4 separate regions of the Homo sapiens genome follow, and all the other regions are reported to be linked to region 4. Evidence: microRNA targets listed by miRTarBase, many of them from high-throughput screens and not tested one by one. Region 4 holds a microRNA gene; each other region holds the end of a gene's coding sequence.
Evidence for each region. The annotated mature microRNA hsa-miR-130a-3p reads CAGUGCAAUGUUAAAAGGGCAU and lies in region 4 at 3,031-3,052, opposite strand. An mRNA with a match to its seed (bases 2 to 7 or 8) in the 3' UTR can be bound and repressed. Matches are read on the target gene's strand: a 7mer-m8 pairs with bases 2 to 8, a 7mer-A1 pairs with bases 2 to 7 and ends in A, and an 8mer does both.

Region 1: miRTarBase lists PNRC1 as a target of hsa-miR-130a-3p. Seed matches in the 3' UTR shown: 7mer-A1 at 5,639-5,645.
Region 2: miRTarBase lists JARID2 as a target of hsa-miR-130a-3p. Seed matches in the 3' UTR shown: 8mer at 6,461-6,468 and 7mer-m8 at 5,119-5,125.
Region 3: the mRNA of PRUNE2 is a reported target of hsa-miR-130a-3p. Seed matches in the 3' UTR shown: 8mer at 6,584-6,591 and 7mer-m8 at 4,091-4,097.

Annotation. Positions count from the first base shown.
Region 1 is chr6:89,083,135-89,090,252 of GRCh38, reverse strand. PNRC1 (proline rich nuclear receptor coactivator 1) reads right to left here. Exons shown (of 2, transcript NM_006813.3): 2 at 5,093-6,500. The coding sequence ends at 6,057. Among named protein-coding and RNA genes, the nearest start is that of PNRC1, 5.9 kb to the right of the region's middle. RefSeq lists enhancers at 4,692-5,218, 5,219-5,746.
Region 2 is chr6:15,519,715-15,526,809 of GRCh38, reverse strand. It overlaps JARID2 (jumonji and AT-rich interaction domain containing 2), which reads right to left. Exons shown (of 18, transcript NM_004973.4): 18 at 4,768-6,741. The coding sequence ends at 6,559. It overlaps DTNBP1 (dystrobrevin binding protein 1), which reads left to right. Exons shown (of 10, transcript NM_032122.5): 9 at 2,141-2,284; 10 at 3,591-4,003. The coding sequence ends at 3,835. It overlaps LOC105374947 (a long non-coding RNA gene), which reads right to left and starts at 476. Exons shown (of 4, transcript XR_007059475.1): 1 at 1-476. RefSeq lists a silencer at 3,590-3,776.
Region 3 is chr9:76,607,882-76,614,999 of GRCh38, forward strand. It overlaps PRUNE2 (prune homolog 2 with BCH domain), which reads right to left. Exons shown (of 19, transcript NM_015225.3): 19 at 3,495-6,719. The coding sequence ends at 6,689. It overlaps LOC105376095 (a long non-coding RNA gene), which reads left to right. Exons shown (of 12, transcript XR_007061586.1): 4 at 1,152-1,272; 5 at 1,368-1,461. Among named protein-coding and RNA genes, the nearest start is that of GCNT1, 150 kb to the left of the region's middle.
Region 4 is chr11:57,637,186-57,644,303 of GRCh38, reverse strand. MIR130A (microRNA 130a) reads right to left here and starts at 3,106; the gene lies at 3,018-3,106. It overlaps MIR130AHG (MIR130A host gene), which reads right to left and starts at 5,928. Exons shown (of 2, transcript NR_186232.1): 1 at 5,632-5,928. RefSeq lists enhancers at 535-1,034, 4,309-4,888 and silencers at 5,735-5,794, 5,815-6,004.

The DNA.
Region 1 (7,118 bases), not on the chromosome of region 4:
CTTTATTATAAAAATCTTCAGTATAAAAAAATGTTAAATGTAGCTGAATTTTAAAGTGGAACATCCATATACCCACTACCTAGATTCTACAGTTAGCAGTTAATTACACCTGCTTTGCCACATATATTTCCATCTATCCCCCAAGTATTTTGAATTTAACAAAGTATTTCAAAAAAAACCTGGAATATTCATACATGAGGTATTCTAATTAGCTAAAGTACAGCCAGAAAACCTTGGTTGAATACCTTTCATAAACAATTCTGTTTTCTTATTTTTGAAATTCAGGATCTGGTCTCAGGCATCACATGATTACAGGAACTTAAGAAATAGACCTGGATGGTTAAGGAGACTGGACTGAATGAACAGTGACTCTAAGAGCCTTGAAAGTCTGGTAGAAAAGGGACATTTCCAGTCTTTGATAGTAATCCTTTCTAAAATTTGAGAGCATTAAATGCCTAGTCATTTGAAGAGTAAGGTTAATTTTGCTCAACTTTGGAAGGGATTGTTGAAAGCCCTTGTTTTATAGTTAGAAAATCCCCTCAAATTGTAACTTATCCAAAGGTTTGATGGGACCAAAAAGCCCTCTGATTCCATGTTGTCAAGTAAAGTGAAATAATAAAGATCTTGTATTTAAAAATCTTACTGTTAGTAGGCAATTGTGAGTTCAATTTAAATCAAACATTTGCAATTGGAAATAACCAAAAATCATCAAAATGGCTACAAAAAGGAAGAAATCACTTAAAAACCCTGAAAACAAAAAGGGAAAACGTTTTCGGCTGGGCTTGGTGGCTCACTCCTGTAATACCAACACTTTGCGAGGCCGAGGCCAGTGGATCACTTGAGCTCAGGAGTTTGAGACCAGCCTGGACAACACAGTGAAACCACATGTCCACGTCCCTGTAGTCCCAACTACTCAGGAGGCTGAGGTGGGAACATCACTTGAAACCAGGAGGCAGAGGTTGCAATGAACTGTGATCGCACCACTCATTGCACTCCAACCTGCATGACAGAGCAAAACCCTGTCTCAAATAGAAAAGGCCCAGTGGGGTGGCTTATGCCTGTAATCCCAGCACCTTGGGAGGCTGAGACAGGCAGATCACTTGAGGCCAGGAGTTCGAGACCAGCCTGGCCAACATGGCGAAACCCTGTGTTTACTAAAACTATCAAAGTTAGCCAAACAGGGCGGCGTGCACCTGTAGTCCCAGCTACTTGGGAAGCTGAGGCAGAATCACTTGAACCCAGGAGGTGGAGGTTGCAGTGAGCCAAGATTGCACCACTGCACTCCAGCTTGGATGACAGAGTGAGACTCTGTCTCCAAAAAAAGAAAACATTTCTACTTGCCATCCCTTGCCCAAGATCCTAAAATGCCAAGATGCCAAGAACACATTTGTAATTTGCATTTGACAATGTCAGATTAACAAACTCTAATCTTGGAATAAGAGAACTATCTGTAATAATTTAGTAGGAGCAGCCATGTATATATAACCAGCTTTGGAGGAGTGTGATTATCATCTAGTGTCTTTACAACCAGACATAACACATATTTTTCTGAATGCTAATTGTATTAGACTAAGAAAAATTACTTAACTTTCCTGAATCTTTTCTTCCACATTCATAAAAATATTGTGTGAATAACTAGAGAAATGAGGTATTTTTATCATTGTTTAATGTCATTTTGTCTTTTAAAGTATTGTTAAATGTTCAAGATTATCTGACCTCTTCTAATTAAATGCAGCTTGAATAGAACATGTAGCCTCCTTTGATAAATGTGTATCTGACTTTCATAAATTTTGTAGGTTGCTTCTATCAATTGTCCCACTTTGTCCCTTTTTACCATTACTAAATTCAGAAACTATGATTAATGCCACATAATCTATGATAAGCTATTCCTTTAATGAGGGAATTTAAAATTTGTGTAGCCAGTTCTACACTAAGCCCACATTATTATAAACCCTGCTCTAGAAAATGAATTCTAAAATCTCAACAGTGGACCCTCACTAAATGCAACACCTTTTATACATCTTAAATTGTTATTGAATTTGGTATTTTTATAATTCAAGTTAACAAAACAAGTAGTTCCTGAATTACATTATTTGTGTTTACACAATTCTGTCTCCTACACCATCTCATCTCACAACACAGGCATACTTTCTTTCCCCATTTGAAAACTTATGCAACAGTTTCCGGGAGATTTCTAGATTCAGAAGGAAAGAAGTACAACAATGAGAAAACAACTTGGAGGAGTTAGCTCAGGGATCAGACTCAGCAAGGCAATTCTGTGATTTTAAAATGTATTTAGTTTAGCAATGTCCTTCAAAAATTTAAATATAGGAGTATGATGGGACTATCAGCCTTTCATACCCAAGGATACATATACTTGATTCCTTCAACCTGAAGCAGATATTGATTGCATATAAATTGCCTTCCACCCACGAAAACAAAGGATAGTTTATCCAGCAATAAGATGAGGAGGGTTATTAGGAGATGAGAGAGCTGCAAGAAGAGATAAAGAGTTACAAAAGATCAGTTTCACCCAATTTCAAATTGTAGAAAAGGGAAGGAAACTTTATTCCTCCTTTGCACCAACTGGGCCCCTGCTATCAGAATTCAGAATTTAAATTAGAACTGTCTGCTAACACAGACTTTTACAGGTACGGAAAAAAAAACAACCTCTATATAAGTTTCATGAGGAAATTATAATTCAACTACTATCACAGTGAAGTTGACAGTCCATAGGAGGCAGAGAGGATGAGGTCAAGACTACTGGTAAAGCATTATTATTATTATTATTTTTAGACAGGGAGTCTCACTCCGTTGCCCAGGCTGGAGTGCAGTGGCATTATCTCGGCTCACTGCAACCTCTGCCTCCCGGGCTCAAGCGGTCCTCCTGCCTCGGCCTCCCAAGTAGCTCGGAACACAGGCATGTGCCACCACACCCGGCTAATTTTTGCATTTTTAGTAAAGACGGGGTTCCCTATGTCACCCAGGCTGGTCTCGAACTCCTGGACTCAAGTGATCTGCCCCCCTAGGCCTCCCAAAGTGCTGGGATTACAGGCATGAGCCACCGTGCCTGGCCTAAAAGCATTAAATCTTATGAGACAAAAAGAAAAGGATAGAGATAAAATATTCCACTCTCATTTCCCTGTTGTAATTACTGCTTTGTGCACTATTTACCAAAGCCATACCTCTGGATCTGACCTATTTTCTATCTACTTGCTGTGCCTTTCCACATGGATGTCCTAGAGGCACCCCAAAGTTCAACATGCCAAATCAAAATGACCTTCCTTTATAATTCTGATCCCCCTGCAATCCCCTAATTGGTAGATTTATCCTTCAAGTTGCTCAATTTCAAGTCTTTTCCTTACCCTCTATTCAGATGCTCAATCCTCAATTCTAGCTCTAAAACATTCCCCCAAATAAGCCCATACCTCTGATAATGCCCTCTAGGCCCTTTTCTCTTTTGAGCTACTGAAATATCCTCACCTAAGTAATCTGTTTCAAGCTTTCCCTTATCAAGCTGTCCTCCATATTTCTACGTTTTCTTTTTGAAGCAAGAATTCCATTCCCTTACTCATAAACCTTTGAGAACTGCCATGCTTACAAAATAAAGTTGAAGCTCTTCCGCGTGACACTGAAGGCCCTTCGTGTTCTTACCCCAATATACCTTTTAAAAACTTCCCTTCCTTTCTTGCATTTCTCTTAAGCTACTGGACATTGTACATTTTTTTTTTTTTTTTTTTTTTTTTTTTTTTTTGACATGCAGTATCACTCATCGCTCAGGCTGGAGTGCAGTGGTACAATCTTGGCTCAATGCAACCTCCGCTTCCTGGGTTCAAGCGATTCACCTGCCTCAGCCTCCCAAGTAGCTGGAATTACAGGCACCCACCATCACACCCAGCTAATTTTTTGTATTTTTAGTAGAGACAGGGTTTCGCCATGTTGGGCAGGCTGGTTTCGAACTCCTGACCTCAGGTGATCCACCAGCCTCAGCCTCCCAAAGTGCTGGGATTCAGCGTTGTGCATCTTTTTACACCACCATCTGCTCAAACTTTTACCTCACAATTTTTTTCCTTTTTTGTGTGTCAAATACTTATCTTTTAAGGCTCAACTCAATTTTTTTTTTCATTTTTTTGAGATGGAGTCCTGCTCTGTCACCCAGGCTGGAATGCAGTGGCGCGATCTCGACTTACTGTAACCTCCGCCTCCCGAGTTCAAGCAATTTTCTGCCTCAGCCTCCTGAGTAGCTGGGATTACAGGTGCCTGCCACCAAGCCCGACTAATTTTTTTCTATTTTTAGTAGAGACAAGGTTTTACCATCTTGGCCAGGATAGTCTTGAACTCCTGACCTCGTGATCCATCCGCCTCAGCCTCCGTAGGTGCTGGGATTACAGGCGTGAGCCACCATGCCCAGCTCAACTCACTGTTACTTTCTAAGGTGTCAGATTCCCAAAGAGAAAATTTTCTCACCAAAATTAGTCCCTTCACCCTAAGAGACTTTACCTTTTTCTCTCTTCAGGCATTTGTTGTTGTAGAGTGGGGAATATAGCTTGTATTTTAGTTATATTTGTCTTTTCTCCCCATCCCACCTAAACTTTCAGCTCTGCCATTTATCCTTCTATTTCCTGAACATACGTTACACATAAGCCCTCACACATTAAACTGCAGACATACTGCTCAAAATGACAAGAGCTGAGAAATGTTGGACAAGGAAAGAAGGGTGGTTGAGGCGGTAGGACTTATATTACATTGTGTAGGAATTTTTATAACCATGTGCAAAAATGTGTTGTTAAAACCTGTTAATGTGTCCCTTTCTAGAATCACAAACTGATTTGGGAGAGATGTCAGAACTCACTGTAGTCAGTCATTAGTATTAATATTTACAACACATTACTAACAAAAGCTAAAATTGGTGACTAAAAATTGGGGGCATCTTCAAACTAAACTTCTAAATGAGCTTCCCTTCCATTTGTGAGGAAGGTGTATCTGCATTTGTAAGGAAGGAATGGTGACTCACACAAAACATCAAACAGAAGTTCCTTTGTATATTCGATCTTCTTTACTTGACCTGATTGCTTAACATTCCCACTCAAAATCTGTCTCCCTTACTTTCTCTTGGCCTTTTTTTTGAGACAGCGTCTGTTACCCAGGCTGGAGTGCAGTGGCCTGATCCTAGCTCAATTGCAATCTCCACTTCTCAGGCTCAAGAGATGCTCCCGTCTCAGCCTCTAGAGTAGTCAAGTACTATGCTCAAAAACCTCAATGCTGCTCCTGGTAAGAAAATGTAGATTATGGCCAGGCATGGCGGCTCACACTCAGCCAGTAAAGTAGAAGTCAAAAAAATCCAACCACACAAAATCATCTCCTAGTCACACATTCAAACATGAGAAACAGTCACACACAAAGAGTCAAGACTATTTTAAAAGGGGGGGCCAAATTATTATTATTTTAAAATTTGATTACAACCAATTTTGTTGGCATTAAAATTAGAGGCATTAAGCTGGAATGGATATATACCAAAACCAGAAATTGAGTTTAGCAAAAATGGGAATAGGAGTTGTTCAGTAATTTCAGATTACAAATCAATTTAGAGAAACAAACCCCATGCTTACATTGATTGTGCCACAGATTTAAACTTCAGTAGTGCATTAGTAAACTGTTCACATTTAGATCTTCACCTTGAGATTTGACAGCTGTTTCTTGAAAAAAATCTCAGTACCTTGTGCAAATAAAATCGGTCTTCCATGTGCCTTAGCACACACTTAAAATTTATCCATTGTATATATACAAAACACCTGCAATGTGGGCAGGGCAAAATACATACTTTCATAACAAAACTATAATATACCTCTCAAGTATGAACAATATACACATAATACATGGTATACAGTATTTACAAAATATAAAATATAATACAAGCTGTTTGTATGTAATTTTTTAAACTCATCTTTTGCAATTGTATGTTGCAACAAGGCAAATTTCCATTTCTGTACCAATTTTCTCAAGAGTCCAGGGATATGGGAAAAATTATGTTTTACACACATACTGAAATCTGAAATCTAAGTTTGAACTTTGAGGAGCGTTTTTAAGTGTACTGCCATCAGCTCCCTGTTTTGGTTGGAATTTTCAACAGTGCTTCCCATCCAGTGACTAGGAGGCTTTGGAAGAACACTAGGAGAAGGTGGATCACTAAACTTTGCCCCAGCATAATTTTCCTTTTGGCTCACTTCAGTTAGAAATGCTGATTTCTTCAAATGCGAATTTTTAATGTTCTCGGTATTTTTAAAAGGCTTTTTTTCCTGCTTCTGAATTCTGTCAGATGAAACAGAATCCTGCCAAAAGTTGTTTTCATTTCTTTTTGCAGAGGTGATCTTGGTTAGTGGCAAGTTATATTTGCTTTTCTGTCTGTTTATCTTTGGTTGCTCATACAAGTGTATACCATGAACAAGCTGGCCATGGGGAAGGGCAATTTTCTCCGATTTTCCCATCTTTGATTTTAAAACCTACAAAGACAAGAACACAAAAGTAAATATAGTTTCTAGATAAAAATCAGTTATGAACCTCATATCACATATCTAGTTTTGTTGTGTTTAAGTTTGCCCACAGCCATAGAAAAGAACAAAATTATGTTCTTTGTGACAACACGTATGTAGCTGGGGGCCATTACCCTAGACGAATTAATGCAGAAACAGAAAACCAAATATCGCAAGTTCTCACTTACAAGTGAATTTGGGAGCTAAACACTGGGTACAACATGGATATAGTGGGGAACAACAACAGACACTAGGCACTACTAGAAGGGGGGTTGAGAGAGAGATGGGGACCTACTGGGTACTATGCTCACTACCTGGAATGGGATCATTCATACTCCAAACCTCAGCATCACGAAATATACCCATGTAGCAAACCTGCACAAGTACCTCCTTGATCTAAAATAAAAGCTGAAAATTACAAAAACTTTAATTGGGCATGGTGGCTCACGCCTGTAATCCCAGCACTTTGGGAGGTCAAGGCAAGCAGATCGCTCAAGCTCAAGGAGTTCGAGACCAGCCTGGGCAACATAGCGAAACCCCATGTCTACTACAAATATAAAAATCAGCCCGGCGTGGTAACACGCGCCT
Region 2 (7,095 bases), not on the chromosome of region 4:
AAGAAGATGGCACAGACAAACTTTCAAAACTGAAGTCAGAAGCCACGATCTAAAAGACAGGCCTTGGCGAAAGGCTTCCGTAGGTCAGAAAGGAAACCCTCAGAAGCGTGCCCCCAAAAAGAACAAGCCTGACCAGCGTGCCTTCAAATTCCCCTGACCACTCAGCCTTGAAGATCCAGCCCAGCGAACTGCTGTCCCTGTGCGGCTGGGCTCAACCCCCGGCCAAGTCCGAGGCAGAGCAGGCTGGCTCAGTTGGCGAGGGTGATGCCGCCAAGCATGGGATCATCTAAACCATAATACTTTTCCCCAACTAAAAATAGGAATTACTCTTACCTCTCATTCAAGTGCTGAACTTTAGTGATTTTCTGAGCCTGAGGATAATGAGACTCACTTTCCTCCCAGATGAAGCCGCAATCTCACGTCGCTGTGGCTCTAAGCACCCTCCTCTCCACCCCCGTGTCTTTGTTCAGGAGGGTAATTTGGCCTTGGTGACTCCTCGTTATGACTGTTCCATTCCAGGTTTTACATTAACTCACACACTCACACGTCTCTTTGCTTAACATGCTTTCTTGCACTCAGCCCTTCCTTCACTATGCCTCTAGCGAGAGCAGGCTCATAATGACGTGTTTCTTCTTGGTCTCTGCTTTTCTCCTGGATCTTAAACGATACCTAATGTTACACCATTTTAGAGATGACATTTCTCTCTCCTCTTTGAACTTACTCCGCAGTCTTCTGGCTTTTATTATTGTTGTTCATGAGTTGCCTGTCATCCTAATTATTTCCTTCTCTTTCTTAGCCTGCCCTCTCTCTCTGGCTGCCTTTTAGAGAGCCTTTGTCTTTTGATGTTCTTCAACTTCAAAGCAATTGGTGTAGGTGAAGATTGCTTTGATCTTGCTTGGAATGTTTTGCTTTTTAAATCTGGGTCCTGAGGTCTTTCATCGATTTGGGAAACTCATCAGCTTCTTTGAATAGAGTTATCTCCCCTTCTTGGCTTCGGGGAAATGTGACCAGATGCTACGCTTCTGCATCTTTCGTACCTTTTATGCTCTCTTGTATTTCCTTTCTTTGTTCTTCTATGCTGCATTATGGCAGATTTACTCATCCTGCCTTCTAGTTTATTAATTTTCTATTGGGCTGTGACTGTGCCCCGAGTTTGAGATTTCAGTCTCTTCTACCTAGTCATTATTTGGCTTTCAAATGTCTGTCCTTATTTTTGACACCTTGTTTTTGACTTCACCTTTCCTGTGACTGTGGTGTATGAACAGCCATCTCATATTCTTCAGCGAGGATGATGTTTGTTTCTGCTGCCCTTCACTCGGAGTGGCTCATTTCATGTGTGTTACAAATGCCAGATTGGGTTGGGATTGACTTTGTTTAAACCAAGGTTAAGGGAGAGTCCTTCCAGAAATAATTTGCATTTGCTTCTGCCAGGCATTCCCCATGGCTAGGATAACTTACGTGGCTTGTGGTTTTCTGGACCATAGAGGTCGTTTGCCTATGAGTAAAGACCTGTGGGGCATCCCGTGCTCAGTGCCCGGGCAGAGGCCAACTAGGCATGTGCTGTTTCATGGGGTCGCCGTCTGCTGGTGGGCTGGGTTTTGTTTTCTCCTAGTCTGTGCTTCCACTGCAGGGAGCTCTTACAGCTTACAGATGTAGGTCAAACCCCTTCTGCCGTTAGGCCCGAGAAATGTTCCAAGGCCAGTGGAAACTCCACTTGCAATTAGAGGAGTGCGCCTGCCGGGAAGGTTCAGGGCACCTGTAGGCAGGAAGCAGAGCTGTGGCTGGCAGGGAGGAAGGTCGCTAACTGTTGCTGCAGGAATGTTGGCCTCTTTGAGACAGGCTGAGCGTCCTACTCAAAACAGCCGGGACTCACTTAATGCAGAGATTAGTCTTCAGCGTCCCAAAGGGCTGGGGATGAACAGATTAAGGAAGTGTAAAAGGTAATAATAGTTGCCAAGGGTGATTTAGGATGCATTTAAAGTGCCAGACTGGCATATGTCATCTACTAATACGTTGCTTCAAATTCCATTTTGAAGGAAGCTTAGGAAATGCAATGTAGTTAGCCTAATGCCAATGGAAGTTCACCTTTTAAAGTAATATTAAAGACAGCGTGTCCTTTCTCGTGTTGATCTATCCGCAGAGCCCATAGGCAGCATGTCATCCATGGAAGTGAACGTGGACATGCTGGAGCAGATGGACCTGATGGACATATCGGACCAGGAGGCCCTGGACGTCTTCCTGAACTCTGGAGGAGAAGAGAACACTGTGCTGTCCCCCGCCTTAGGTAGGGTTGACAAACTTGCATTAGCTGAACCAGGGCAGTATCGATGCCACTCCCCTCCAAAGGTGAGACGTGAGAACCATCTGCCAGTCACTTACGCATAAACCCCCAAGCTCACAGCCAGCTCCTGGCTCCCTAACCCCACGGTTCCACACGGCTGTGTGGCAGCTGCAACAGTGGTGTGGTTCCGTCATGAATTCTTCTCAAAGATTTGACATGCTCCACTCCGGTAACTTTGGTGAGTTGAGAGCTTTCTTGTTTGTTTTCCCTCCTTTACCACCCAGAAATCCATTTGAGTCTGCTCCTTGTGGTTAAGGACTGGCGTTTGCAGGGAGGTGCGGACTCTCCTGCGGGGCTCACGGGAAACTCTTCCCTCTTCGTGCGACAGGCATTTAGGGGCGTGCCTGCCATGGGCAAAGCCATGGTGTGTGTTCAGCTCTTGGCCTGTGTTGTAAACTTAGTTGCACTTCAGTTCCTTTCATCCCTTCACAAAATTTTGTTTCACATTCATGCAGCAAATATGGGCTGAGGTGCCAGACCTGTACCTGGGCTTGGTGCGTTTCAAATTTCAGACCAGTTCTTTGGGCTGGGTCAAGGCAAAGCTCAGTCGTCCCAGCAGCACCTCAGCCATCTGTAGAAGGTTCTACCATTACCACGGTTTCAGCTTCCTCTAAACTTCTCACCCGCTTCTCCTGGCAATCTGTCAGAACGGTGTCATCCTGGGGAAGAGAAGGAGCTTGGGTGCATTTGCCCTCATCCTGAGAAGGCCAGAATACTGGAGACCAGCGTGAACCCTCACCCAGAGTCAGGGGAAGATTTAGAAACAGTGACACCTGCATATAGAATTTTGATTCCTTGAAGAGCCTATTTAGTTCCATAAAATTGGAGAACTGCTGAAGGTCAGTAATTCCGACTTTCTCAGCAGTGGTGTCTCTGAATTACTGCAAAGGGTAAAAAAAAAAAAAAGAAATCTAGATTATCAAGGTTACAAGGACTGCTCCTCAAAGATAGGCAGCACTTGCCTTTGGGCCTCTATTACACGCGTATTACAGCCTTAGGAGCACTTGATCTGTGTCACATGTGGCTGACTCCTTAGGGGACAGAAGGGTCACCGCAGGGCCTGAGGCTGCCTCTGGCATCGCTCAGCTCAGTGTCTTCCAGGGCAGTTCCCAAGTTCTGCAGGCCCCAGGTGCCTGGAACAAAAACCACACCCCCCTTTCATGACGGGCACATTCCACAGCTGTTGGCGGCAATTCTGATTCACAATATTTTTATGACAGGGCTTTTTCTTCCCTACGTTATTTTGCAGGGCCTGAATCCAGTACCTGTCAGAATGAGATTACCCTCCAGGTTCCAAATCCCTCAGAATTAAGAGCCAAGCCACCTTCTTCTTCCTCCACCTGCACCGACTCGGCCACCCGGGACATCAGTGAGGGTGGGGAGTCCCCCGTTGTTCAGTCCGATGAGGAGGAAGTTCAGGTGGACACTGCCCTGGCCACATCACACACTGACAGAGAGGCCACTCCGGATGGTGGTGAGGACAGCGACTCTTAAATTGGGACATGGGCGTTGTCTGGCCACACTGGAATCCAGTTTTGGCTGTATGCGGAATTCCACCTGGAAAGCCAGGTTGTTTTATAGAGGTTCTTGATTTTTACATAATTGCCAATAATGTGTGAGAAACTTAAAGAACAGCTAACAATAAAGTGTGAGGACGGTAAACTGAGAGCGCACAGAGCTAGTTTGTACACAAAGGCTTCTAAATACACATGTCCTTAAGGCCACTGTAACTCAGGGTTCCTTAGAGTGAAGGGACGTGCAGGTCATTGAGGGCCACCCCGGGAGGTTGCATGTGGGCAGGGCCTGGGCCAGGTGGTGGAGGCTCCACAGGGCTGAGTTCTGCATGAGGCAGGGAATGACCTACCGTTTCACAAGTGGAAAATGCCACTTCCTGTAGAAGAGCTGACTGTAGCCAAACCACTCTGGCAAAGCTTGGGGTTTTCCGTTGATCATTACAGAAGTAAGTAAGTATCATTAGTCCAGTAGCCAGCCAGTCCAACCCCTACTTTTTCACACTCCTGGGCCCAAAAGAACAGAAACAAGCCCAAAGCAATCCTCCATTCTTTATGAAAAGAAACTGGTCCCCTGGAGATGTGTTCCTGCCATCACTCCTCCAGCCCAATGAGAGAGAGGGGACAGACTCCCCGCCGGGATGAGGGGGTCTGTCTGTCTGCAGCCATACCACCCTGAATGCACCCAGTGTCGTCTCATCATGAAAGCAAGCTCAGCAGGGGGGCGCAGCTCGATGGGAAATGAGGGGGACGGCCGCAGGCCACATGGAAACCATTAGGTTAGGCTGAAGGGGACCCAGTGGCAGGTGGGAGCAGGACTGCAGTGTGGGGGGTGGCTCTGCTCCCTGGCTGGGGGGAATCCTCTGCCCCCTGCCCGTGGACGAGAAAAGAAAGAGCTCATTCCATTCAGTCATCTTCCACAAGACAGACAAATGTCCAAAAAACTTTGTTTTTATTATTAAACCTTGTAGTACAAACCTGAAAAGTAAACAAAAAACTCGCAATAAACCACATGAAGTCTCCCTCCCAAGGGAGGGGTGCAGAGCAGCGCTAATAAATTAAATGTCAAACTGTAAGCCATAGGCAGAAGTTTACTGTCAAAAAGAGGGAAAGTACACAGCAAGGCCATAGAAACCGGACAACCACATTGGAAAACACTTGACTGTTTCTGTAATTGTTAAATATTCCAAAACAGTTCAGTCTTCTGCAACAACAACCAACAAAGTGGATCATAGGACGTTCCTGGCAGTCACCACTGGCAAGCTCAGTGCAATATGGGTAGCTACGGGATTGATGAATCCAATTATGAAACAAAGAACAGCTTGTGAAAACAGTTTCCCTTTTTTATTCCACACATACTGTACACACAACCGGAGAAGGGCAACAGCTACTCCATTATTATTTTTTTGTTGTTGTTCAGTGATGTAAGCAGCACTTATAAATGTTACAAGAAAAACCCTGTAAGCATCCAATCCAACCGATGAAGAAACTGAAATGTAAGGCTTTTCTTCATCTTGTCTTCTCACCCCCCTCCCCACCCCCCACCGAGAAAAAGGCTCAAGTATTTAAAACAATTTACAGGCATATGTACAAAAGGGATGGGATTTTTTTTTCTTTTTTCCTTTTTGTTACAACATGAAGAGAAAAAATAGACAAGATGAACGCAAATGCATTTTCACATTCAAAAATAACTGCAGGCCTCCTAGTGGCTCTCTACATGATCATAAATGAAACAAGTTTTAAAAGAAAGATTAATGCTGACTTGTGAAGGTGTCAAACAAGAAGCGGTGAGATGGAGATGGAATGTTAGAAAGATTGCACGTCGATGACAAAGAAGCACTTACGGCTTCCATCACTTTTTTTTCCTTTTTTTTTTTTTTTTTTTTAAATCTTAAGGATGCTATTGAAGGGTTTTTTGATAAAGTAGCCAACAGCACCAAAAAATAACAGAATGGATTTCCTAATGAAATCAGGCACAGGTCTCCCTCATGTGACCCCTCCAAGGCAGGCAGTCTTTTCCGTCTTCCTCGCTCGCTTTTCTTCTTTCCTGGAACAGATGCATAGTGATGTGCTGGTGGAGAGCCCACTCGCTCCCGTCTCCTCGTTCCACCTATGGTTAGGAAACAACGTCCGCCTTCAGCTGCCACAACCGCCCAGAGAAACAAAACGGGGGTGCCCCGGCTTCCCAGATCACAAGCTCATCTGGCACACGGCAGAAGACGACAGCCAAAGCAAAGCCATTTCAAGTTTCGTGTGTGTGTGTGTGTGCGCGTGTGTCTCCTATCCCTTCTAAAAAATCTGCTCACATGACTGATGGTTTTTAAATTTGTTCTCCAAACTTCACCCTCTTCAAAAATGGGTTAAAAAGCCTTTTTCCCCCCAACAGTTACAAAAAAAAAAAAATCAAAACCAAAAAAAAAGGCTTTTGTCAGCCATGGGGCAATACAAATTAATACAGCCCCTCCGGGGTTTTTAAAACAGTGACTATACGGCAGTTTCCAAAATCTGACTGCAGTATCTAGGTTTTCTAAGTACAAAAAAAAGTTCAACAGTTTAATGCTAAAACAAAATTAGTTCTCTAAAACCAGAAGAAAATCTTCTTTAGAGCTAGTGCAAAGACAGCTTGAATCCTACAGCAAGTACTCCAAACTAGAATATAATAATTACAAAAAAATATATATAAATCGACCACGGGCGTTGGCATCTTCATGATGAGCTCGAAGCACTTTTGGATGAACTGGAGGCTGACAGACGGGAGGGGGGCACGTCCACTGTCGCTCTCTTGCGGGGACCTCTTTTTGGTGTGGGTTTACTGAGACAGTTCTCAATGCTGCCGTTTTTACCAGACACTTTGCCGCAGATCTGATTGACCAGACTGATAATCTGTTCCTGTTTGGGGGTGAAAGGAAGACACAGTTAACATACCGTATTAACAAGAGCTCTGTCCCTGAGAGCCATGCAGGGGCAAGTTTAGGGCAGAGGGCAGCGGTCCCCTTCACCACACCAACCAACAGGTTTTAAAATAACCCCGAGAGGCTCAGATGCAGTGAGTCTCCCTTTCCCAGCTCCTCCTGATGCCACATAGCAGGCATGGCCGTTTCATCCTCATCAACACCCTGGTCCACCATGCTTTGCCTGCTCATAAGGGCAGGGCTGGCAGGGGAGCCCAGAGCACTGCCTCTACCACGGAGCACTCAGCAAAGAGACCCAGGGGCTTTGTTACATCCTGGATGGTGACACAAA
Region 3 (7,118 bases), not on the chromosome of region 4:
ATACGACCCAGGCCCAACTAAGCCTGCATAATCCACCCCTTCAGTTACAGTGGTTGGCTCATAGACAGGCAACTAAGCCGGTCCAGTGACATGCAGCCCTGGGTCTTCTGCTGGGATTAATGGGAAGGAGGTGACCCTTTCCAGTAGGCTGAATCCCAGTTTGTGTGATTTCAAAGACAATGAGGTAGTACAGAAATTGTCTCATCAGCTCGGGGAAGTGAGAATTTACTAACCCCCTCCTCAGGGATTGGAGGGGGCACAGAGAAATGATGGTGGGAGTTTGTAGTCTGAGATTGAAACCAGGCTTTGAATAATCTGAGTTGTGCTAGTTGAAGTCATGGAGAAATAGCAGAAAAGCCTCCGTCTGAACATTGAGAAACACCTTGAGAAAACAGAGGAGCTCAAAGAGGAACTTGCAGAAGGCACCAGGGGTATGGTGGGCACAGTTTCCAGGCAGCCTTCAATCATCCCTATCTCCTGATAGTTACACCCTGTGTCCTACTCTCCTTTTGAGTGTGGCTAGATCTAGTGACTGACTTCTTTTAATTTTTTTTTTTTTTTTTGAATTTTTACTTTTTGGAGATAGGGTCTTGCTCTGTCACCCAGGCTGGAGTGCAGTGGGGCAATCATGGCTCACTGCAGCCTTGACCTCCCAGGCTCAAGAGATTCTCCTACCTCAGCCTCCTGAGTAGCTGGGACCACAGGCAAGTGCCATCTCACCTGGCTAATTTTTATATTTTTTGTGGAGACAGGGTCTTGCCATGTTTCCCAGGCTGGTTTCAAGCTCCTGAGCTCAAGCTATCCACTTGCCTCAGCCTCCCAAATTGCTGAGATTAGAAGAATGAGCCACTGTGCCTGTGACTTACTTCTAACCCACAGAATAGAGCAACAGTGAGAGGATGTCAATTCTGTGATAGATTGCAAAATATTGTAAGTTCCTAGCAGTCTTTCTCATTGGTTTCAATAAAAAAAAGCTGCTGTGCTGGAGGGACCCATGAGGCAAAGAACTGAGAGCAGCCTTTAGCTAACAGCCGGCAAGGAATGAGGTGCTTGGTCCAGCAATCACAGAGAAACTGAATCCTGCTGATGATCATGAGGGTGAGCTTGGAAGCAGATTCTGTCCCAGATGAACTTTGATTGTGTCTTGTTAGAAACCCTGGACCAACTCCTTGATTGCACCTGTGAGAGGCCCTGAAGCGGAGGGCCCAGCTAAGGTGTGTCTGGATTTCTGACCCACAGAAACTGAGATCATAAATGTGTGGTTTTAAGCCCGTAAGTTTTGGAATACAGTAGATCTTCATTATTCACAGATTTTGCACTTGCAAATTTGCTTACTCGCTAAAATTTATTTGTATCCCTAAAATCAGTACTCCAGCACTTTCACAGTCATTTACGGCATCTGCAGAGCAGTGAAAAATTTGAATTGCCTGAGATACATGCTCCCTGCTGAAGTCGCACAAGGTAAGGCTCTGTCTTCTTGTTTCAGCTCTCAGCAACAAGTATCCTCTTCACAGTCCATGTAGTTTCCTGTATTTGTGTTTTTGTTTTTTGCATTGTTGCGCTTTTTGTTGATTTTACTGTTTAAAATGGCCCCCAAGCTAGTGGGGGCTATTTGGTATTCCTAATGCAAGGAGGCTGTGATGTGCCTTATGGAGAAAATACCTGTTGCAGAAGCTTCATTCAGGCGTGAGTTATGTTCAGGCTGTTGGCTGTGAATTCAGTGTTATCAAGTGAACAATATACATTAAATACAATATCTTTAAACTGAAAAACACATAGAACAAACTTATGTATTGACCGGTTGCCCGAGGAGCAATGGATCAGTGTTCACTAACTCAGTGTTCTTGTTGACTTTATAGGACATAACTACTGTGAAAAATGAGAGTCAACTGTAATTTGTTAATACAGCAATAGATATTGAATACTGTGGGAAAGCAGGGTAATTCAGCTCACTGGTCTAAGGAGGAAGTTTCACAAGGAAAGCGTGATCCAGTGTTAAGGGCTATAGGTCTCTCACTAGAGGTAAGGCTAGAGAGATCATGGGTAGCAGTTATTGGTGTCTAATGTCTAAGTATCATTGGAATGGTTATATCTTGAGAAGAAATAATTTTGTCTAGTTAAAGAGGGTTATTTTGAATGGATGTGAATGAAACTATCTAGGAAAATCAGGCTCGTGAGGCAATCTGCTTGCTCCGTAAAGCCCACAGCTGTGTGAGGATTGATGTGTCAAAAGGCACCAGCTCTGAATTAAAAGTTCCATGACTGCACAGGATGATGCAACCCAGGGCGGGCTTCTGGCACGCTGCAGCACATGGACACAGCCAGCACAGGGACACTGCACACACAAGAGAAGCTGTAGAAGGGAATGGCTCCTCAGGGATCCACAGTGCCCCAACACAGCTTTTCTGTAATCTATGACTGAAAGTCTTGGCTTCCACGACTGAAGTTGTCTTCATTTTATTTATTTTTAACTTCAGCTTATAAAAGGCCCCTTATGATTTTGATTTTTAATTAGGCTCCCAACTTTATCACTGATCTCCATGCCCTACCCTTACCCAAATGAGTGTGTTAAGTCCTTAAATACACATGGATTTTGGATAATACGTAGTTTTGTGTGTGTATGTTTAACAGTTATGTAAGTGGCACTGTGCTATAAACATCGAGTTTGTTCTTTTTCCGCTCTACCCTATGATTTAAGTGTTGCTTTATGAACATATAGTATGTTGCTTCTCACAGCTGTGGTATACTAAAAGGTGTATTCAGCACGATTTACCCAGCCCTTTCCCTAGTGCTGGACACCTAGCCCACCTCCAGTTTCCACCACCATAGTTAGGTACGAGAGCAGAATGAATGTAGCAGTACGTCTTGTAGTTGAATGTCCTTCCTTTGCCTGCAATTACTTGTCAGCCTTTTCTTCTGTTTCTTCCCTTTCTTGGGTAGAGGACAATATCTACCAGAACTCATTTTTAGATCATGAGAACATGCAACGTCTCACTTCTTGTAGAGCAATTTCTCCTTTGGCTAGTCCAACAACTTTCTCAGAGGTACACATGTGTTTATTAAGTTAAAAAAATAGCACAGTGGTAATTCTCAACTCTGGTTTTGCCTGAAGGTTGTGAAAATGGGGAAAAAACCCCAACTAAAAATAAAATGATATTTAAACATTTTAATTTAAAAATAAATATATGCCATAAAAAGGCAAGGGGAAGAGAGAGGAAAAGACAAAAATCAAGTAACCATGAAACATGGAGATGTTTCCAAAGTAAGAAATCGCTTATCCACAGAGTAAACAACAGTTTGAAAGCTCGGTGTATTGAACTCTGAGATAGGAAAGGCAAAAATGAAGAGAGAATAAAGTTTGGGTGTACAGAAAAACCAAAATGTATACAGTCCTCCAGTACCAAGTGCCAAGCTAGATTGATGTTGAGATAAAACTGCTGCAAAGTGAAGCCAGAGAAAAATTCTTGCTGACTCAAAGAAAGAAAACCATCACATGCAGAATCAATTTTTATTTCTGAATTATACAGTGAGGCTATATAGATATATTGTGTCATTAAAGACTTTTATATTATTAATCTACATTATGGAGAATTTATTTACCAAAACGAAGTCTAACAGACACTTTATTCTGAGCAATCCAATGCATGATAGAAAAACCTTTAGATATATAAAAGATTAATTTGTGCACATCTAAATGTTTCTAAGGGAACAAACTACTGAGGCATTGTGATAAGACGAGAGTTGCAAACATAGTACCATAACTGAATATTTAAAATTACATCTTAACAAAGGCTAGGAGTAGTGACTTCCTCACACACCTCAGAGAATGTCTTAGAGAGTAACCCCATAGAACATTGTATGGCTTCAACAGAAACTTCAGGATTTTCTTCCACACTGAGCTACTGCCCTCAAACAAACTTTCTCACTCCTTGACACTATCTTCTGTGCAAATTTCTGTTCTTTCTCTTAATCAAGGAGCTTTGAGAAACAATGCTTTTGCCCCAATGACCCCTTGGTTCCCTTAACTACAGATCTATAGGAGAAATGCAAAGCAGTTCCCAGAAGTCAGAACCAAAGCAAGAATGTTCAGAGTGCAAGAGCTAGAGAGCTAAATCATGTGAATGTTTACCTCTGTCTACCTATCTGCTTAGGGATTATTTTTCTAGGATTCATCTAGGATTCTATTTACTTGGGGTGAATGTACATGGTAGCTTTTCCCTAGCACATGCAATTAAATTAATTTGTCTTTTAAGATAATAAAATAGCAGATACCTAAATATCAGAGTGGTTATGCAGCCTACAGAACAGCTGAAACAAAATCATTGGGACAAATGCCCATAATTTTCATGTAGGAAGATGAGGCTTCAAACAGCATACCACCTGAGTAGTTTTCCATAGATGAGCTGGACAAGTTAAAAATATATATATAAATGGTGAGATTGTTGCTGTGTCTGTTTGGCTATAACAAGAGCCCTCTATGAACAGCTCTATGCCCTCAGGTTTGCACCACTACACTGAACACTGGATTTTTCATTACTTCCTGTGACAGGGTGACCATGGAATTCATTTTACAAAATGGGATGCTACTGAGTGAAAGTAGCAAATAGGTGAACAAACAGGAATATTGGGTAACTGTATTTACGTCAACACTGTGTTCTGGGAGAGGTGTAATTTGGGCTTTCAAAAGTGGAGGTGGGCTGTGGGAGGGGGTGGGCTGTAGGGTTTTTCTGTCCAACAAGCCAGATGTTATGAAGGAGGAGATCCAACAGAACATACAATTCAACAAGATACTCGCTTGAAAGGATCAAGAGGAGAAAAGAGAAAACGATGGAGGCTTATGGAGGAAAGAGGGCTGAACTGCGTGTGTGTGGGCACGTGCGGAAGGACGGGAGGAGACAGAGGTGAAGCAATGAGGTCAGAGAAACTCAATCACCTGTGCAAAGATGTCGACTTTAAAGTAGTTACAAGCTCCTTCTACCCAGGACTCCAAATATCCTGGACAGCTCTCCCCAATGAATTTTCCACCATGAGACTAGGGTGGAACCGCTCTCACCCCTTCATTTTTATTTCTGCCAGCTTCTTTGTAATAGGAGACACTGGAGACTAAGAATGGTTCCCAGAGTGAGGCACGGACTTCAGCCAACACCTGTATATACTAAAGAAGTGCTTCTAAGAAGGCTTCATTTTGGCAATTGCAACCTAAGCAGTGATTTTGTGGCTAGGACTCCTCATGTTTTTCAGCAAGCCATTTCTTTTATTTCACTGTCTGTGGATGTCAAAACATTGATTTTTGACAAAAATAAATTAGTTTGCAGCCTCATTTGTCCGTTCTGTTAGAGAAACTATCTAAATACAAATTGGGGTGGAGTAGGAAAGGATGCGTTTGCTAGAGCAGGGGTCAGCAAACTTTTTCTGTAAACATAGTCAATGTTTTAGGCATTGTGGGACATACGGTCTGCTGAACTGCTCAGCTCTGCGGCTGTAGTGTGAAAGTAGCTGTAGACAGTACAAAAACAAGTTTGTGTGGCTGTGTTTCAGTACCACTTTATTTATCGGCACTAACATTTGAATAATTTTCATGTGTCATGAAATATTCAAAAAAAATTTTTCCAACCCAAAATGTAAAAACCATTCTTAGCTTGCAGTGGTGAGCGAGACTTAGCTGTGGTTTGCCACCCCACCTCACTAGAGGCCTACAGACTTGAAATCTTGTTGGCATTTTAAAGGGCATATGAAGACTATAAAGGAAATATTTTGTACATGAAAGTAATACTCATATTTAATTTTAAGCCTATGATCAGATTACGGTGTTTTAAAGCAGATCACTTTTTATAATGCATGCGAGAGAGGAATTCATGAATAACTGAATGCTACCAAATGATTTTTGAGTAGGCCACCTTGCACTTGAGTTCTTGGCACTTAAAAGGTAACCTCTGGAGCTGAGTTTATGGCCTGAAACTCAGAGAGCTACCAAACATGCAACACGGATTCTTAAATTTCACAATGTGGTGGTCACCAACATTCATCAGGAAAATGATGTTAAAAGACCAATTTACATAAAATATAATGCCCAATTTGACAACTAAAATAAAGTTGACGTGGATTAGAAAGCCCGGCTTCCCTTTGAGAAGTTAAAGGAGATTCTGGTAAACAAGAACAAAACGGGCACTTAGCTGATGATGGTTTTACACCTTGTGTGGTTTGTGGCTGTCCTAGTCAGGCTTAGGATTTTAAAGGTGGAGTCAAACAGGGGAAACTTTCCTGGGGAGAGTTGAGACCTGTGTACTTTAAACCTAATGCAATCACCAAAAGGAAATCCAGCTAATCTATGGAAACAAATCCACTCATACTTAACAGTGGATTAAAGGTATCTTACTGGTAAACACCAGTCTAAGGGACAAAGTATCACTACACCGTGTTAATGAAGTATTGAAATGGAAGGTCCTACTTTCTTGCTAAGGCTCAACTAAAATCTTTGAGGCACATAATTGGCAAAATAGGAAAGTACACACAATTTCATAAAATATCTTAAGAGTAAACAAACTTTCTATTTTTCCCCTTAGAAATTTAGAATGGCACCAGGTAGTGCAAAGTGGAAAAAGGTAACATCAGCCCTGTCTCTTTCAGGTAGATATGTTTCAACAGAACCATGAACCAGAAAAGCATCCTCTTCTTCCAGCATGGCCAACTAAGGCTTTTCTTTCAGCTTCAAGTCAATACTGCAAAGAAAAGAAAAAGAGAGAGAAACATGAGAAACCAAATGAGAGACATTTAGTAATGATTTGGGTAGCACTGTGTTTGCTTTTTTCCTCAAAGGACATACTGAAAATATTTAAATCATGCAAGTTTCTTATAATAGAAAAATCTGGTAAAACCCAATCCTCCTCTTGTCAGGCTTTTCTCCAACATATGAAATCTGTTTAGTTCTACAAAATCGTTTCTGGAAGCATTTTACACCTTTTCAAAATGATCCAGGGAGGTAAAAAACTCATGTAAAGGCTCATTCCCAAAGTCAATTAAGATAAGGAGCATTAGTGTATTCCAGAAATCATGCCATTTTATTTAATAAGTGACCTTTCCTTGTGAAGCAAACAAATGTTCTGCCTCAAGTAAGTAAT
Region 4 (7,118 bases):
AAAATCGCAACATCAATGCCACCATATGACCCAAGGGACATTTTATTGGCAGTGGTATGAAATCCCTACTGTTGTTGGGTGCCCAACAGTTACAGGGGAGACCATATACATCATAAAGATCATTTTTTGGTAAGCTATAATATTCTTTCCAGATTCATTCATTAATATTCCAAATATTTATAAAGCATCTATTACTTGCCAGGCATTGTGTTAAGCACTAGATGTTAAGCACATGGTGAAGATAAGGCAGCTGTGACCTGACTTCCTGGAGCTTTCTGTCCAGTAGGAGATGCAATAACCAGGAAATCCCAGTAGAAGATGATAATAAGGGATCTAAGCAGGGACGTGGAGGAAGCTTGGGAGCTCATAGGAAAGGAACTCAGCTTAGATGTAAGGAGTCAAGGAAGGCTTCACAAAAGCGATGACTACGATGGCATTTGAAAGATAAGAAGTTAGGTAGGCAAAGGCAAAAGTGATGGAAGTATTTCAGACAGAGTATGTGTCAAGTAACTTAAGTTTAGTTAATTGAAGGAAATAAAAGTTGCTTGTGGGCTGAAAGCAGTGGCTCACGCCTTAATTCCAGCACTTTAGGAAGCCAAGGCTGGAGGCTTGCTTGAGGCCAAACTTTGAGGTTAGCCTGGGCAATATAGCAAGATCTTGTCTCAAAAAAAAAAAAGCCATACCTGCACCTGTAGTCTCGACTACTCAGGAGGCTGAGCAGGAGGATCACTTGAGCCCAGGAGGCTGAGGTTGCAGTGAGCCATGATCACGCCACTGCACTCCAGCCTGGGCTGGAGCAAAACTTTGTCTCCTTAAAAAGTGGGTGAGAGGACATGAAAGGAAAGAGAAGCAGGAGCCATAAACTATTTAGGGAATCTAGATTTAATCCCAATGGTATTAGGGAAATATGGGAAAATTATTGTTTTTTAGAGTGGAGTGGCAGTATCAAATGGCTATTTGTGCCCAGACAAGAGGCTCAAATAGAAGTTTTAATAGACTGGAGAAAGTAAGGAACATATGGTAGGGTGCGGTGGCTCACACCCGTAATCCCAGCACTTTGGGAGGCTGAGGTGGGCGATCACTTGAGGCCAAGAGTTTCAGACCAGCTTGGACAACAAAAATTAGCCAGGCATGGTGGTGCACGCCTGTAATCCCAGCTACTCAGGAGGTTGAGGCAGGAGAATCACTTGAACCTGGTAGGCAGAGGTTGCAGTGGGCCGAGATCGCGCCACTGCACTCCAGCCTGGGCGACAGTGAGATTCTGTCTTAAAAAAAAAAAAAAAAGGGAAATAAAGCTAACTGTACTATCTCAAATACTGTTGTTGTGATCAGAATGGAGAGGCTGTCTGGGCAGGAGAAAGGAGGACTAGAACTGGAAGGCACAGAAGTAAAAGGGCAAGGGAAAAAGGCAAGCCATGGAGAGATGTCCAACATCCCTCAACTAAGGCCTCAGGGGAGTCTGACCCATCTTTCAGTTTCTACATGCCTCATGATGCCAAGATCCCTCTCAGGGTCCAGCAGAGGACCTCAAAACCCTATTCCTCTTGGACCCATTTCTTGCACCAAAGTTTAGGGAAGATTTCTCAAGTCCCAAACTCTGCTGTTGAAAACCAGGCACAAACTAGCTGCCTTCTTCACTTGATCTTAGCCAAAAGACCAGGAATACTAGCTGCCTTCTTAAAGAAGCTCCCCAAATATTCCTCTCATTCAATTTATTTTAACAAGTTTTAATTAAGCCTACTAGGCACTGTGGGAGACAGAGAAGTAAATGGCTGAGTCATTGCTCTCAAATTTTTCTTTCTTTTTTTTTTTTTTTGAGATGGAGTCTCGCTCTGTTGCCCAGGCTGGAGTGCAGTGGCGCAATCTCGGCTCACTTCAACTTCTGCCTCCAAGATTCATTCAAGAGTCTCCTGCCTCAGCCACCCAAGTAGCTGAGACTACAGGCGTGCATTACCACGCCTGGCTAATTTTTGTATTTTTAGTAGAGACGAGGTTTCACCATGTTGGCCAGGCTGGTCTTGAACCCCTGACCTCAGGTGATCCGCCCGCCTCGGCCTCCCAAAGTGTTGGGATTACAGGCGTGAGCCACCGCACCCGGCCTCAATTTCCTTGTAATTGGTCCTGGGAGAATCATTCTGTGGGTTGATTCAAGGGATCCTATTAATCTTTAAGATTAAGTCATGGGCAACGCTGTCCAAATCTTGGATGCCCAGACAGGTGTGCCCTCAAGCAGCATTACCATCAAACACCCCGTGACCAAGAGGGAGTGGTGCTGAGAAAGGTAAGTGGATTCAGGGAAGGAGTGAGGTCTTTCCATGCCTCATGAGCCAGGGAAGGAGCTGTAGGTATGGGATGCCAGCAGCACACAGGTCCTTTTCTTTGGGGAGCAATCCTCTCGAGTTAACCCCCTTTCCTTTCTGGTGCATTCCTTTTTTTCTCAAGGAGGCCTACTCTGTACCTAATAGTGATTCTCCTAATCTTTTTCCACTCACTCTCCATTCCGGGCTGAGTCTGGGAATGCTTATCCTTCTTAGCCTAAGGAGTTGCCACCACTTCTGGTCCTTAAAGGTTTGAGGCTTTGGAAGATATCCTCATACAACCAGCAGATGGCATCAAAACCTTCCACCCCTCAGCTCAGGAAATCTCCCAGTTTGAAGAACCTATTCAGATCTCTCCAGATGGGTCTACAAAAAGATGAGTGAGCTGTCAAGACTTAACACAGGGTTGTATCTAGGCTTTGCAACCTAAGAGCTACACAATCTTAGCCAAACTGTTTAAACCTTTCTGACCCTCAGTTTTTCATCCATAAAATGGGGCTGTTACCTCCCAGAAGTTATTAGGTTTCACAGTAACGGAGGCAGTGTCTATCACAAGCACTGCATACAGAAGTAGTTCCATAAATGAGAGCTATTAGTATAACTAACAAGTGAGGCTACCCAGATTCCCACCAGGGTAGCTGACTGGTGCCCAGATGGGAGAGGAATTGCAATGCTGAGGAGGCAGCCAGCGCTGGGTAGCACTACACGGCCAATGCCCTTTTAACATTGCACTGCTAGTGACAGGTGCAGACAGTAGCACAATGTGAAAAGAGCTCTGGCCAGCAGCAGAGGCATGCCGGCCCTGCCTCCTCACTCCTTCTCCCAGTCCCTGGCCCACTCAGCTCACGGGCTCCCTCTGCCCCTTCTTTGCTTCAATACAGCTTTTTTCCCTTTTATTCCATTCTTAGTGTTCATTCTATTTTTTCACCACTCTTCCTTTTGCCGCCTTCTTCACCAACCCCCTGACCCCCAGCACAGAGACCACCTTTTTCTTGGAGGTTTTGGCATGGGAGGACAGGACCCACTAAAGCAGCTGCAGGGATACTTCGGGCTTGATGCTCAGTCCTCAAAGAAAACGGCTATTAGCAATCCCCAAAGTCTGGAGGTCACTCGTATGAGGCTGTGTTCATCTGGATTTGCATTTCCGCTAGCTTACCTTCTAGAGAGGAGCTTGCTGCCCAAGACTACAGAACCCTCTACTCTTCTCTAAGTTTCCATCTCCTTTTAAATTTAGATAAAGCAGAGCTCTAGGCCTCAAGGCAACACTCTCAGATGACCTTCCAGGACCAGAGAGGTGGGAGCCTGTAGTCACAGCTCCCCACGCAGTAGAGAGAAGCTTCCAGGCGGGGAGGTGAAAGCTGCTGGTGAAGCCCCACCCCTGCATCTCCTTTTGGAGGTCCTGAAAGCACTTTGCAGATTCAGCATTAAAATGGTGAGGGTGATTCGCTCACAGTTACTGAGAGTTAGGGATAGGCTTTCACTGGCAGTGGGATTCACATCTGAGTTATTTCCTGTCTTATCCAGGGACCCTTGGTTGGGGAGTCTTCAAGCTCATCCTAGCACTTCCCCATCCTATCCAACCCTAAGGGGGCTTAAATACAGGACAAACAGTCCCCGGAAGATTAACACCCAAAGCCAGAAAGCTGCCCTGGAAGGACACCTGGATATCTGGAGGCTCAGACCCAGGCAGGCTCTATTGTGGCACATTCCAGCTAGGGCCACAGCCCCGGAGCCCAGCTCCAGTTCTGACCCAGTGAACTTTGGGCAGCCCAGAGAAACAGAGGCTGGAGGGTGATTCCTCCAGTGCCCCGATCAACGAAGGGGAGATGCCTTCTTCCCTAATCCACAGCCACCGTAAGGAATAGAGGACAGAATTCCAGTTGGGAGCTCTTCCTCTGGGCTTCCCTCTAGCCTCGTCCCACCCCCTCAGGAAGCAGGAGACGTTCCCTCCCGCTCTCCCCGGCAGAGTTTGTTCCCGTAATCTGCAAACATGGGGCCCTGCCCTACAGTTTTAATGGGCGGAAACCAAGACCCCTCGAGGGTCAGTGACCTCTCTGCTCTGGGGTTGGGCAAACCAGGCCCAGCTGGGAACTGGATCACACCAACAGGGGGCAGAGGGGCAAAGATAAGGCTGCACAGCAAGCTTCAGGGAGGCCAGGGGAAGATTCTTCCCCAAGAAGTTTCCAGGTCTCTCCTTAGGGAGTGCAGGGAGAAAGGGCCAAGAGCCCCTCAGCTCTCACACACCCAACTCATTCCTGAGGAGCAGGCCCAGCGACTCACCAGCCAGCAGGACCCCTCCCCCACCTTGGGCCCAGGAGCCAGCCCCCAGCTCCTTCCAGAAGCGAGTGTAGAGACCGAGGAGGAAATGGGGGAGGGGAGGCCCCGGCTCAAGTTCTCTCCTCTCCCCCTCCTCATTGGCCACCATCTTCCGGCCCCTGCCCCCAGAGCAGCAGGGGATGGGGCCCAGCCTGTGAAAGGGAGAGAAAGGGCAGGTGGGGGGTTAGCTGGAGCAGCAGGGGCAGGGGGCTGGCCCCAACTGTCTCCTCCCACCCCCTCCTCGCAGCCATGGCGACGGGAGGAGGAGACCAGGAGGGTCCTGAAAGCCATGTTCTGTGAATGGGATGAGAGAGGCAGCTGGGAAGTGGGGGGTGAGGGGCGCTCTCCTTCAACACCCAACTGTGCTCCCCCCGAACACACACACCTCGAGGCTGGACCACACAGGCGCACGTACACACCACACACACACACACACACACACACAAACTCTCAGCCATACTTGCTGCACAACTCAGCCCTCATTACACACCCAAACAACAAGAACTGGAGTGTGAGCGCACGCCCCCCACACACACACATCCCCGCACCCCTCAACACCCCACAACTATCAGCTCGAAAACCAGCCTCACACCCCCACACCGCCCCTGGCTCACCCTACAACTTCTGGAGGTGCAGAACTCCCTGCCCTGCTCCAGCCCTTCGGCCCCCGGTCCCCCTCGGAACACTCCACGCCCTCGCACACAACCCAGGTGGAGACAGATGGCCCAGCTCGGCCGTGCCCAGCGGAGCCCCCCATCCCTACCCCACCACGCCCCCCACTGGAAAATGACAGTGAGGCCACCTCAGAAAGACACGCCTGGTGCTTCCCAGTTACAGTGTTTCCAAAGGAAAAAATAGAAAAGATGCCCACGAGTGGAGAATGAGGAGGGAAAAAGGAAGACGAGAGAAAGAGCCCAGACCGTCCCCCTCCCTTCCCCAAGAGAGAATAAAACCGAAAATCGGTGTCGTTACCCTTCGGGAAGCTCTCGATACCTACACATTGCTCTTCGTTAGGATCCTCTGCCTGCCACCTCCTTCTTCCCGGGCTCTTTCTCTGCCCTTCCCTCCCTCTTGGCTCCCCTCCCTGGCCTCGCTCCCCCTCGCTCACGCCCTCTCGCACCCCGCCAGCCCCTCTCCCGGGCCGGGCTTGGATCCCCAGCGGCCGCCCCGCCACCCGCCGGCCGGGACCGAGGTTGCGAGGCCGGTGGGCCGCGGAGACCCTCTCCTCTGCCGATCTCGCTCTTCCCCCCTCGCCCCCTTTCTCCTTCCACACTCCCTGCCGTCCATCTTGAATACTTGGGATTCTTGAATGGAGTGAGCAGGATCCGCTCCCCCAGGCTCCCATTGGCTGTGGGTTAACCCTTTTGAAACGAGATCCTCCCTCCCATTGGCTGCCAGGCTCCCCTCTTCTCCCCCAACCCCCATCCCCTCCGCCTCCCAACAGTCCGCGAGGTCAGGGCGCTCCCGGAGCCCCCTCCCCTGGCTTCTCACCTCAACAACCCCCGCACCAGGACGCCCCTCTCCCCGCTCTTTCCGTCACGCCCCGCACAGGGCTGCAGGTGAAGGCAGATCCAGTTCCCGCCAAATGCGGCCCCAAGGTGGGGCTGGCAGAAACCCTGTTCCCAGATGCCCCTCGTGCTGGATTTGGAGACCTTGGAAGATACAAGGGGTGCAATTTCCTGCCCGTCTCCAACCCCTCCTTGACCAGAAGTACTTCTGCAACAGGGGATCCACTCAGCCTTTCAGCCTCACCCAAGGCGGTGGGAGAGCGTTCCTGAACGCCCGCGCTTCTTGGGCTGGCCAGGAAGAGGGCAGCTCTAGAAAGAAGATCTGGGGCTCTTCACCGAAGCTAATTCCCCGAGTGCCGCAGGGCAGGCCTGACCCGATCAGGAATGTGCAGCATCTGGAGCTCCGCTCCGTCAAAAACATCCCCTCAGACCAGCCCTGCCCCGCCTGGGCCAACGTGCTGTGCGCCCACAAGGGGCTCTGAGGTGGGGGAGCCCAGAGAGGAAGGCGGCAGCAAGGACGAGGGCGATATGTCAGGCCTTGGAGTAAGGTCCGGGGTTTTAGGCCTAGATCTGCCATTAAGATGCAGGGCGAGGCTGGGCGCGGTGGCTAACGCCTATAATCCAAGCACTTTGAGAGGCTGAGGTGGGAGGATTGCTTGAGCCCAGGAGTTCCAGACCACCCTGGGCAACACACTGAGACTCTATCTCTACGAAAAATAAAAAAATTAGCTGGGCGTCGTGGTGTGGCCTATGGTCCCAGCTACTAGGGAGGCTGAGATGGGAGGATCGCTTAAGCCTAGGAGTTCCAGGTTGCAGTGAGCTATGATCGGGCTCGGTGGCTCATGCCTGTAATCCTAGCATTCTGGGAGGCCGAGGCGGGTGGATCACCTGAGTTCAGGAGTTAAAGACCAGCCTGGCCAACATGGTGAAAACCCGTCTCTACTAAAAATACCAAAATTATCTGGGCGTGGTGGTG